Regions from separate parts of the Homo sapiens genome. Here region 1 is linked to region 2. The links come from fine-mapping of genetic effects on gene expression. A gene starts in region 2. The other region holds a variant in brackets. All regions are shown on one strand. Distances are between the middles of the regions.

Evidence for each region.
Region 1: its variant is fine-mapped to the expression of WARS2-AS1 in spinal cord (GTEx, PIP 0.97).

The regions. Positions count from the first base shown.
Region 1 is chr1:119,217,184-119,222,567 of GRCh38, reverse strand. All of the region lies in intron 4 of WARS2-AS1 (WARS2 antisense RNA 1), which reads right to left. It also overlaps the pseudogene RPL6P2. Among named protein-coding and RNA genes, the nearest start is that of WARS2, 79 kb to the right of the region's middle. The variant C/T (reference allele first, on the strand shown) is at 2,598.
Region 2 is chr1:119,137,735-119,143,118 of GRCh38, reverse strand. WARS2-AS1 (WARS2 antisense RNA 1) reads right to left here and starts at 2,723. Exons shown (of 7, transcript NR_125975.1): 1 at 2,326-2,723; 2 at 1,306-1,372. It overlaps WARS2 (tryptophanyl tRNA synthetase 2, mitochondrial), which reads left to right and starts at 2,466. Exons shown (of 6, transcript NM_015836.4): 1 at 2,466-2,564. The coding sequence starts at 2,475. RefSeq lists an enhancer at 2,385-2,694.

The sequences.
Region 1 (5,384 bases), 79 kb before region 2:
AAGGCAAAAGAAGAACCTAGAGAGAATTAGTAACAACAAACAAATCTCTCTAGGGAAATGTATAGTACTTTTTTAAAAAAGATTCTCCAAAGAAGATACGTAAGTGGTCAAGAAGCACATGAAAAAATGCTCAACATCATTAGTCACAAAAGACATGCAAATCAAAACCACAGTGTGATACCGCTCACACAGGTACAATGGCTAAGATTTAAAAAGACAGAAAGTAAGAGGTATTGGTGAGGACATGGAGAAACTGAAACCCTTCTGCAACGCTACTTGGAGTATAAAATTATGCAGCTTTTTTTGGAAAACAGCTTGCCAGTTTTTCCAAAAGTTAAACAGAATTGTATGACCTAGTAATGCTATATATCCAAGAAAATTAAAAACATGTATTCACACAAAACCATATACAGAAATGTTCATAGAAACATTATTCATAATAACCGAAAGGTAGAGATAACCCAAATTTTTATCAACTGATGAGTAAATGAATAAAAAGTTCTACATCCATATTATGGAATATTATTCAGCCATAAAAGGAACGAAGTATTGATACATTCTACAACATGGATGCACCTTGAAAACATTATGATAAGTAAAACAAGCCAGATATGAAGTCCACTTATTATGTAATTCCATTTAAGTGAAAATCCCAGAATAGGAAAACACATAGAGACAGAAAGTGGATTATTAGAGGGTGTCAGGGGTTGGGTGGAGTGAGGAGGGAGGATGCAGACTGCCTGCTAATGTGTCAGGGTTTCTTTCAGGAGCAATGAATATATTCTAGAATTACACAGTGATAATAGCTGCACAACCTTTTGAATATATTAAAAGCCACCGAATTGCACACTTCCTAACAGTAAATTGTAGGCATGTGAATTATACATCAATTAAAAAATTATAAGAAGAAGACTTTAGACTTGTTCAAAGGACAATTAGGACCCTGCTGGAAACTCTAATCTCAACTTGAAAAGTTTTGCTAGACTACTTGCCTCTTCATCTCACCCCCCAACTCATACTCCAAAGCAGCCCCAAACCACAGTCCCTAGCTATTACTAAAGGAAAAAAATAGGAGAGACACCAATCAGCATTGGAGGTGACTTGAGAAGCATTTGATGTTTGCAGACATTCCCTGTAGGGTGTGGGGGAGGAGGGTGAACATAGGAACGTGAATTAATGGAAGATATTGCTCCATCTCATGAAGGGATCCAATGCTGACTATGAAAGGAAACCAAAGTGTCTCCAGAGAGGCCTCTTTTTAATACCTTCCCATGTGTTGACTATAAGGGAGCATGGCCAACATAATCCTCTTTAGACACAAAGGTATTTGACTTGAAGAGGAGAGGTCACCCTGAGCAATTCTGAGGCTTGCTTGCTTGCTTACTGAGCTCCTCCTTGGGTCCCAACATTTTTGCTGGCCTAACTTCTCCCCTGACTCAGAGGCTGTGGGTTTCTTCTCCTTGAATCCTCTCTCTCCCTGTGATGTGTGTGAGAGAGGAAGGAATGTCAAAGTGCAACATGAGTAGTTGCCTATTTAACTACTTTAAAATCAGCTCTAAAAAACCAAATTGATTCTAACCAACAGAGTGCAAGATTTTCAGTTTTGCCACACTGATGATGGGAATCAATTTGCTACAGCTACTATGAAAACCAGCATGGAGTTTCCTCAAAAAATTAAAAGCTGAACTAAATCACATACCATATTATTCAGCAATCCCACTTCTGGGTATTTATCCAAAATAATCAAAATTAGGATCCTGAAGATATATTAGCACTCTCCTGTTCATTGAGACACTATTCACAATAGCCAAGATGTGGAAATAGCCTTGATATCCATCAAACTATGAATGGATAAAGAAAATGTGATATATACATACAATAGAATACTATTCAGCCTTTAAAAAGAAGGAAATTCTGCAATATGAAACAAGATATCAACCTTGAGGATATTTCATTAAGTGAAATAAGCCAGTCATAGAAAGAAAAATACTGCATGATTCTACTTATATGAGGTATCTAAAATAGTCAAATTGATAGAAGCAAAGGATAGAATGGTGGTAGCCAGGAACTGGGAGAAGTGAGAAATGGGGAGTTATCAATAAACAGGCATAAAGTTTCAGTTAAGCAGGATGATAAGCTCTAGATATCTGCATTACAATATAGAACATACAGGCAACAATAAGGTCTTGTACACTTAAAAGTTTCCTGAGGGTAGATCTCATGTTGTGTTCTTACCACAATAAAATAAAATTGCCCCCATCCCCACTTCCACCCCCTGCCAAAAAACCTAAATTGATTATCTTCAGAAGATGCTAGGGAACCAACTAGTTTTTGGAAAATTGGTAAATAAAAGTTTAAAATTTTTAAGGTTTCCTTTTGTTTTTACTATGCAAAGTGTGCCACCGAAGAAACAAAAACCACATGGGTACTTAAATTTCAACAAATTCGAGTTCTCTTTCCCATCCTGCAAGATGATGGGTGAAAAAGTTGAGAAGCTGCATACCAAAGAGAAGAAGCCCGAAGCCAAAAAGGCTAATGCTGGTGGCAAAGTGGAAAGGGGTAACCTCAGGGCTAAAAAGCCCAAGAAGGGGAAGCCC[C/T]GTTGCAGCTGAAATCCTGCCCTTGTCAGAAGAATTGGCACATATTCCTGATCTGCTATGTATTCTAGAAAGGCCACGTACAAGAGGAAGTACTCAGCCACTAAATCCAAGGTTGAAAAGAAAAAGAAGCTTCTTGCAACTGTTACAAAACCAGTTAGTGGTGACAAGAATGGTGGTATCTGGGTGATTAAACTTCACAAAATGCCTAGATATTATCCTACTGAAGACGTGCCTCAAAAGCTGTTGAGCCATGGCAAAATACCCTTCAGTTGGCACGTGAGAAAACTGCGAGCCAGCATCACCCCCAGGACCATTCTGATCATCCTCATTGGACACCACAGGAGCAAGAGGGTGGTTTTCCTGAAGCAGCTGGCTAGCGGCTTGGTTGGTACTTGTGACTGGACCTCTGGTCCTCAATCGAGTTCCTCTACAAAGAACACACCAGAAATTTGTCATTGCACCTCAACCAGAATTGATATCAGCAATGTAAAAACCCCAAAACATCTTACTGATGCTTACTTCACAAAGAAGAAGCTGCAGAAGCCCAGACATCAGGAAGGTGAGATCCTTGACACAGAAAAAGAGAAATACGAGATTACAGAGCAGTGCAAGATTGATCAGAAAGCTGCGGACTCACAAATTTTGCAAAAATCAAAGCTATTAAACATCAATGACTACTAACATCACAAAAAGAGAGACATTGAGACATACGTAACCTCTAAGGAAGAGCACCTAATAGTGAGGTCCTATGCTTTAAAACAAGAAGAAAGAAGAAAGAAGAAGGAGGAGGAGGACCTGGATTGGTCACTTAGACACAATCAGAAACACAGAGTAAACTTTACTGTGGGGAAGCAACCCGCTAATTCTAAACTGTAGGAACCTCTTTAGATTAAGTGTTGCATTTCTTTCAATGAATTAATTGTAAGGAAAAATAAGGAGATGAAGGGGAAGCCTATGGATTAAAAGGCACTTAAAAGATATTTATAAAAAACAGGTAAAGCTAAACAGGTGTTTAGGAATATACACTTAGGTGATAAGACTATTTTTAAAAAGTGAGAAGTGGTTGCAATAAAAGTTAGGACAATGGTTACTTTTGCTGGAAGAGGGGAGATGTTTGAGAGATGGGCATGTAGAGGGCTTCTGAGGTGGCTGGAAAAGTTCTCTTATCATGGGTAGTGTTTACAAGAGTTATACCTTTAAAACCATTATTTTAACTTGCACATTCTCTTTTCATGGTTTTTTGGTACTTACAATATATTTAACAATAAAAAGTTTTTTAAATAAAAATTAAATAAAACAAGCTTTGATGGGAGAAATGGGAAAGAAAAAACAGAAAATGGAGAAAAATATTAGGAATGTAAGAGAGAAAAGGGTCACATTTGTGACCCCACATCTATTTTTCATAGCAAAAACAGAACCCATTTTTTTAATCACAAAGATGATTTTGGGTGTCACCTAGGACTTCCCTCTTCAAAATGCACAGTTAATTTTGGCCACCTATGACCCTGACAATGAAATCCAGGAGGAGGGGGAAGAGCTGGTGGAGAAGAGACTGGAATTGAGACTGGCTAGCTGATTGTGCATGTGCTGGCTGGAAGAATGGGAAACCAACATCTTAAGACCACCATTTGTGAGAGGCCAGAGTGGCAGCACAGCCCCCAAGAAAGAATGTGGAATAGTGTCTTCAGTGACCCCATCAGAGAGACACCAGCATCCCCAGGAGCAGCTGGAGAAGTCAGGACCCATGTAGGGAAATGTCAGCTGTGTCAGAACCATGGGAGCAGAGAAGGAAGGCCTCTGTAAGAGAAATCTTTCTCTGCCTGTCCACATGTCTGTCAGCATGACATTTTGGGTCAATAAATATTCATCAGGATGCACCATTCCAGCTGACCTATGTTACCCCCTCCACTGGAGGAGAAAATAAACAGGACTGTGGGTGCAGAAGACGTCTGCCCCCTTCAGAGGTGCCTTTGTCCTTTGTGTGTGAGCCAGGAGTTCAGATGCATGTTTACCTCCTTGAATCCTTTGGGACTTTTGCATCTAATATCTGGTAGAAAGTCAGCTCCTTCCCTGTGTGTTAAACAGCAACACAGTGCCATCAACATTGTCAACTGTCAGAGAATAACATTCAAATGGAGGTTAGCTAATCAGTGAGCAACTCTTTCTGTTACCTGCTAATGGGAGGGTTCCCCAGGTGGAGTTTGTTTCTTCCTTTTTTGTGCTCCCAACATCTGTTTTCATACATCTGTTTTGGCTTTTCCTCTCATTGCTATTGTTTCTGTATCTGTCTCCACAGTGAGACTGGGAACCTCTCACTAATTTCATCAATATTGATTGAGCAACTCTTATGTACAAAGCATTATGCTAGCTAAAGTGGCAAACAAAGGAGTAACTCCTAGAGCTAAGAGGCAGATATTAACCAACCACACAAATACATGCATAATTATACATTATGTGAGTGCTAAGAGAGTGAAGGGTGAGATGAATGATTACCCAGGGAAGTCTGTTGGATAGTTCCACATTAGGAAAGGCTTCAGTGAGAAAGAATGTGGAGGGATTGGCCAGGCTAGGGACAGGGGAGTGTGTTTCTGGGCAGGGAGTATGTCCAGAGCAGGGGGTAAGAGGAACCCTGGTGCAAGCCAGGGATGGAGAAGCAGGGCCATAATATGAAGAGCCTGGTAGACCATGATAAGGATCTTAGAGTTTTAACCTAAGTACCACAGGAAGGGGTACATGTTTAGAAATGGGGAGATCACTTATTACACTGGACAAGCAGAATGATGATGG
Region 2 (5,384 bases):
CAAAGATACATTGAATAATATATCTTTCCCCGAGGAGTCATGGTTACCATTATTAAAAACTTATTAAAATACGTTAAATATACTGAGCTGAATATATTCCTCCTCTTAGAAGATGGTGAGCTTTGTAGTCATACTTTCCCCAACACCAAAATGCTTACTGTGAAAAAGTACAAAAGTAGACAGAACTGGTTCATTTTTAATACATCCTGTGTCTTTTCTGTTAACTGTTCCTTCTGGCTGTTAAAAGCATAACAATTGCTGACAATAAGCTGTGTAATTTGTTAAAATCCAATTTACTTTTAAAAGAGGTGCCTACTCTGCATAAGAGACTATTCTAGGTGCTGGGGGAGATGTTAGAAATATAAACTATAGTCCTTGTCCAAGAAGCAAGGCTGGCTGAGTGACACCTGAGAGTTACCAGGTCACCGCCACGGTGCAAAACACAGTTTATTACTTCTAACAAAGTCTAAAAATTAGCAAATATTTTCAATTTTAAAAATCAGGATACTAAAGTTATAAAACTTGTGGTCTTAAAGTCCCACCTTTTTTAGTGGGACTATGTCTTGGAAATACCTCCCACGGAAATATTATTGGTCATAGGAGTCTGCAGATACGACTAAGAACTACTTCTTGAAGAAATAAAGTAGGTACACCCTTTGACAGCTTTTGGTGCACCATAGTCTTATTGCTAGGTTTTATCTTGCTATCTAGATGACTAAAGATGTCAGAAAGCTAATCTTGCTAATTGCTAGGGTCATGTAATCTCATTAATAAAATATATGTAAAACACTGTACTATAATGCTTTGCTCTATGTATGAGTAAAACATGTAGGGCATTTATTAAACTGCATTTTACAAGGCATAACATATATCCCCCTTCCCCTGGCAAGGTTTGTTTCCAGGGTCTCAGTAATATCACATTCTTTGGGTTCTACAACACCTCTTGGCTCCTTTATTTCCATCATCTGGCTACTTTCACTCCACAAACTCTATCTGATGGTCTCAAGGATTTCCTTGGTTTCAATTACCATCTGTTTGGTAGTTCAAATCTCTTCTGAGCTCCAGACCCATGTATCTATTTAATGGGCATCACATTTTGGAAGTACTACAAGCACCTCAAATTTAACAGCCAAAACCAAACTGATCAGCTTTGTTGAAGACTATAACTTGATTTCCTAGTTTTTTTTTTGCCTTCATCCCTTTCCTGCTCACTTCTAAATTACACCAATTATACTTGAACTTCACCAGTACTTTGTATACCTACAAGATTATCCTATATGGTTTTAATTTACTGTTTTGTCTTACCCTGGTAGATTTCAGCTCCTTTATAGGCATCTCTTATCTCCTACCTCTCCTTGGTAATTTTCAGTAGCTGGATGAATTATAAACAAAACACATAAAGGAATTGTCATGAATTTCTTCCAGTTATATTTTTACTGAAACACTCGTTATCTGTCTGGGAGATTTTTAGGTGAATTAACAGAAGCAGAAAAACTGTATTAAACTTTCTCATAACCCCAAACAAAACAATTTCTTCCATCAGGTATAACCTTCCTGCAGCCTTCCCTAGACTAGGTTGAAACACCACAGTCATAACCACTCCTCCTTAAAACTTGCGGTGCTTGCTTCTTTAACACCTATTAAGTGTACATCATTTATTTATCCGCTACTCTATTAGACTGTACACAACTTGAAGACAAGATATGTCTTTCTCTGTACCTTCAGTGCCCAGCACATTACGGTAGGGTTCAACAAAGTTTACAGGACGAATGAAATAAGGCCACATAAGTCCAGTGCGGTGGCACATGCCTGTAATCCCAGCACTTTAGGAGGCCGAGGCAGATGGCTTGGCTTGAGCTCAGGAGTTTGAGAGAGCCTGGGCAACATGGTGAAACCCTGTCTCCACCAAAATACAAAAATTAGCCGGGCGTGGTGGCGCACCCTTGTGGTCCCAGCTACTCAGGAGGCTGAGGCAGGAGAATAGCTTGAGTCTGGGAGGTGGAGGTTGCAGTGAGCCGAGATCGCGCCATTGCACTCCAGCCTGGGCGAGAGTGAGACCTTGTCTCAAAGAAAAAAAAGGGAAATGAGGCCACACATGTCTAAAAAGACCACTTATATTACCCTCTAAGAGAACTGGGAGTTTCTAAACAAACTTTTTAAAGGTTGCCTTCACATAGCTAAGATCAGAAATGCAGCCTACTTGACTTTCTTCCAGTCTAAAGCGTTGCTACTAATAACCCCCAAGGAAATTCTCCTTCCAGGAAGGCTGAGCAGACAAGGGATCCAGGGAAAAACACTAAAGCCCCACCCCGCTCCTGTCCCCACCTGCTCGGCAAGAACTGCAGTCCGCCCGATAGCGGCTGCGCTGCGCAGCCTGGAGGCCCAAGCCGCGCCCAGCAAGCAGGAGTCGCGAGACTGGGATTGGCTCTCTGAACAGACGTCATTCCAAACAAGACGGCTCCGCCCTTCTCAAGATGGCGCTGCACTCAATGCGGAAAGCGCGTGAGCGCTGGAGCTTCATCCGGGCACTTCATAAGGGATCCGCAGCTGCTCCCGCTCTCCAGGTAACCAAAGACGGCCCTTCCCTCCGCGGCTTCCCATCCCGCGAGGTTCTTCTCATCCCACTGCCCTCTATTTATTTCTCTCCTCCCGCTTCTTAGGGAAAGTACATGCCTTCCCTCGCCTAAGGTCTACTCGTCTATGACTGTCGGCCTGCTCAGAGCGTAGTGACGTTGCAAGGATACGTGATGACGTAAAGGTTTCTTGGTGGAAAAAGCGCGCCGCTTTCTGACCTCTTGCCGCCACCTCCAGTTCTGGGAGCGGAGCGCCGCCGCTGTTGCCGGGCAACGCGGTGAGCCTACCCCGCGTGTGATGTTTTCAGAGACGGGTTGTTTTAGAGACTGCTCTTCTTGTGGTCTTATTACTGTTTTTACCCTCCTTACCCTAACAACACGCTAAGGGGCTATCGGAGAGAGTAGAGAAGTTTTGTTAGGCATTGGGCAGCTTGGGTCGGGGCAGCAGGTTGGCAGTGTGGTACTTGAGCAAGTGTCAGTGCATCTTCCATTCTGGTTGCTCCTGGTGGCTCCACAGCACTGCTCTATCTAGCAGGCTGTGAAAGAGTGACCGCAAGCTGCTACAGAGTTTGTCCTGTCCTGCGCTTGACAACACTGCTGTTACCATTAATCTCGTCGTACGGAGACCATGTCGCGGCCTGGTCTTATTGGGAATTGTCTTAAATATTTGGAATTTTACCCTCATAGCAAAAAAGTCAGGGGGAGGGGATACCCTTTCAGTTATTCAGGATTTTACCAAACGTCTTCCAAGTACAGTCTCAGTGGCAAGCACTTTGACATACTTTATCTACGGGAGATATATTCTGGGAACTAGAGAGAAAGGAGAGAATGTGATTTTATTAGGTAATTTCCCGGCATCATTTGCATATGTATTGCCATAATGAGTAGGTGTGAGGATGTCGCACCTATTGTAACTGTTGTGTTGAAAACAGCGCTAGACAGGAAGGTAGCCTAGAGGTCAAGGGTTTGGTCTGCCACTTGACAGCTGTGTGACAAGTCACAATCTCTCTGGGACTTTTCTTCTTTTTTTGCTCATATTGAGTGGAGGAAGAGAGCTGGACTGATTGACACGTTAATGTTCTTTCAACCTCTGGAAAATCTATAGTTCCATGATTATGAAGCCAAAACAAAGCCAATGAGAGTAATTATGAAAACCAAAATTTAAGTTCAACTTATTTTTCTAGTCATGTCATAAATTTTTTGAACTTCCGTTTTTTATTAATGTGAGCCTCACAAAATTCTTATAAGCTAATATATTAATATATACCGGAAAGCTGCTTGTCAGCAAACAACTATTCAAATGTCACCTTAAATTTCAGCAGCAATGTTAGGTAAGACAATTCAAAATTAGATAAATTTATCAAAAATTCCTCTCCTTGAAATTTGAGGGTTTGATTCTGCAGAACTAGAATGAGATGATTATTTATAATTTATAGCACATTAACACCTATGCTATCAAAGTAGCTAAGCCGTAGACCCAAACTTCCCCTTATTCCAAACTAAAGAATTGAAGATGTCTTGAGAATAGAGAATCAAAGAGAGAGAGAAAAAAAAGACAAACTGCAGCCTGCTAATGACTGCCCAGGGAAGTTTAAGACACTAAGTCATTATAAATGCTAAAGAAAAAATTTCTTAAACCTCTACTATTGTTTCAGTGGCATTTATGAATAGGGCTATTAAAGTTAATTATTAATCTAGATTGTTTCAAGATGTAGAATTTCCAGTACCGATGAATGTTTCTAAACCTTTAATTTAGCTTTGAGTAGAATAAGTATTAAATGTGAGAGTATTTTTTTAAAGTATAAATCTACATATAATTTCAGTCATTGAAAATGATGGTTTGAAAGATTAATGTGGTTTTTTGAAAGACTGAGAAAAGATACAAAATTGTGTTCATAGTGTTATTACGATGTTATGTTTATATATAAGTGTTTATATAAACGTATACATAGAAAAAAAGCCTGGAAGGGAACAAACATTTTTAACTTTTTTATTTTGCTTTGGCCTTCCTAAATAGTGGGTTAAAAGTTATTTGTTTCCTTTTATAGCATTACATATTTTTCACATGTCTAAATTGAAGACACACACTTTTTAATAACCAGAAAAACGTTTTGAAATCATAAATCTTTATACAGATCTTTAGTCATTAATATCATTTGTGATATTTTAGGATTCTGAGGAAGATACTTGTCCCACAATGCTGTTATTAAAATGGCCTTAGAAAAGGACTACTAAAAATTTATGGCCACTTTTCCTGTATGTATCTTCTTTTTCTCTTGAAAAGCTTCCTTTGAAGTCAAAGGGATTTTGTGAACAGATGCAGAAATATGTGAAAGAGGCATTGGATTCTTAAACCAGATGCATTAGACATTTTTATGATATCTCATAACCTTTGTAGAAAAAAATTATTTTGCAAGAGTATAGTATAATGGGAAAAAATGTATATTTATCATATGAATGGTTCCATCAAAAACCAAGAAATAGCCAAGTTAGTTTTTATTAGCCTTGGCTGTGCACTTACTCCCTTAGGTGTAAAGCAAAAGTGAATGAGCCATAACAGTGCTATGTTAGAAACTCTAACTAATAAAGTGTTGTGATTCCTAAGTTGTTTTAATGGTTTTTAGTGTTTTCTTTTTTTAAAACAAAATCTTGGGTAAAAATGTTGGCATAGGGCATCTTTGCTTATCTCAGAGGATGCAGATGTAAACTCAAGTTGAAAATAAAACAGGGAGAAACAGGAATAACAGCACATCACTCCATACTCATTATGGGATGTCTACAATTTATATGAAAACGGTTTATTTTGCCAGG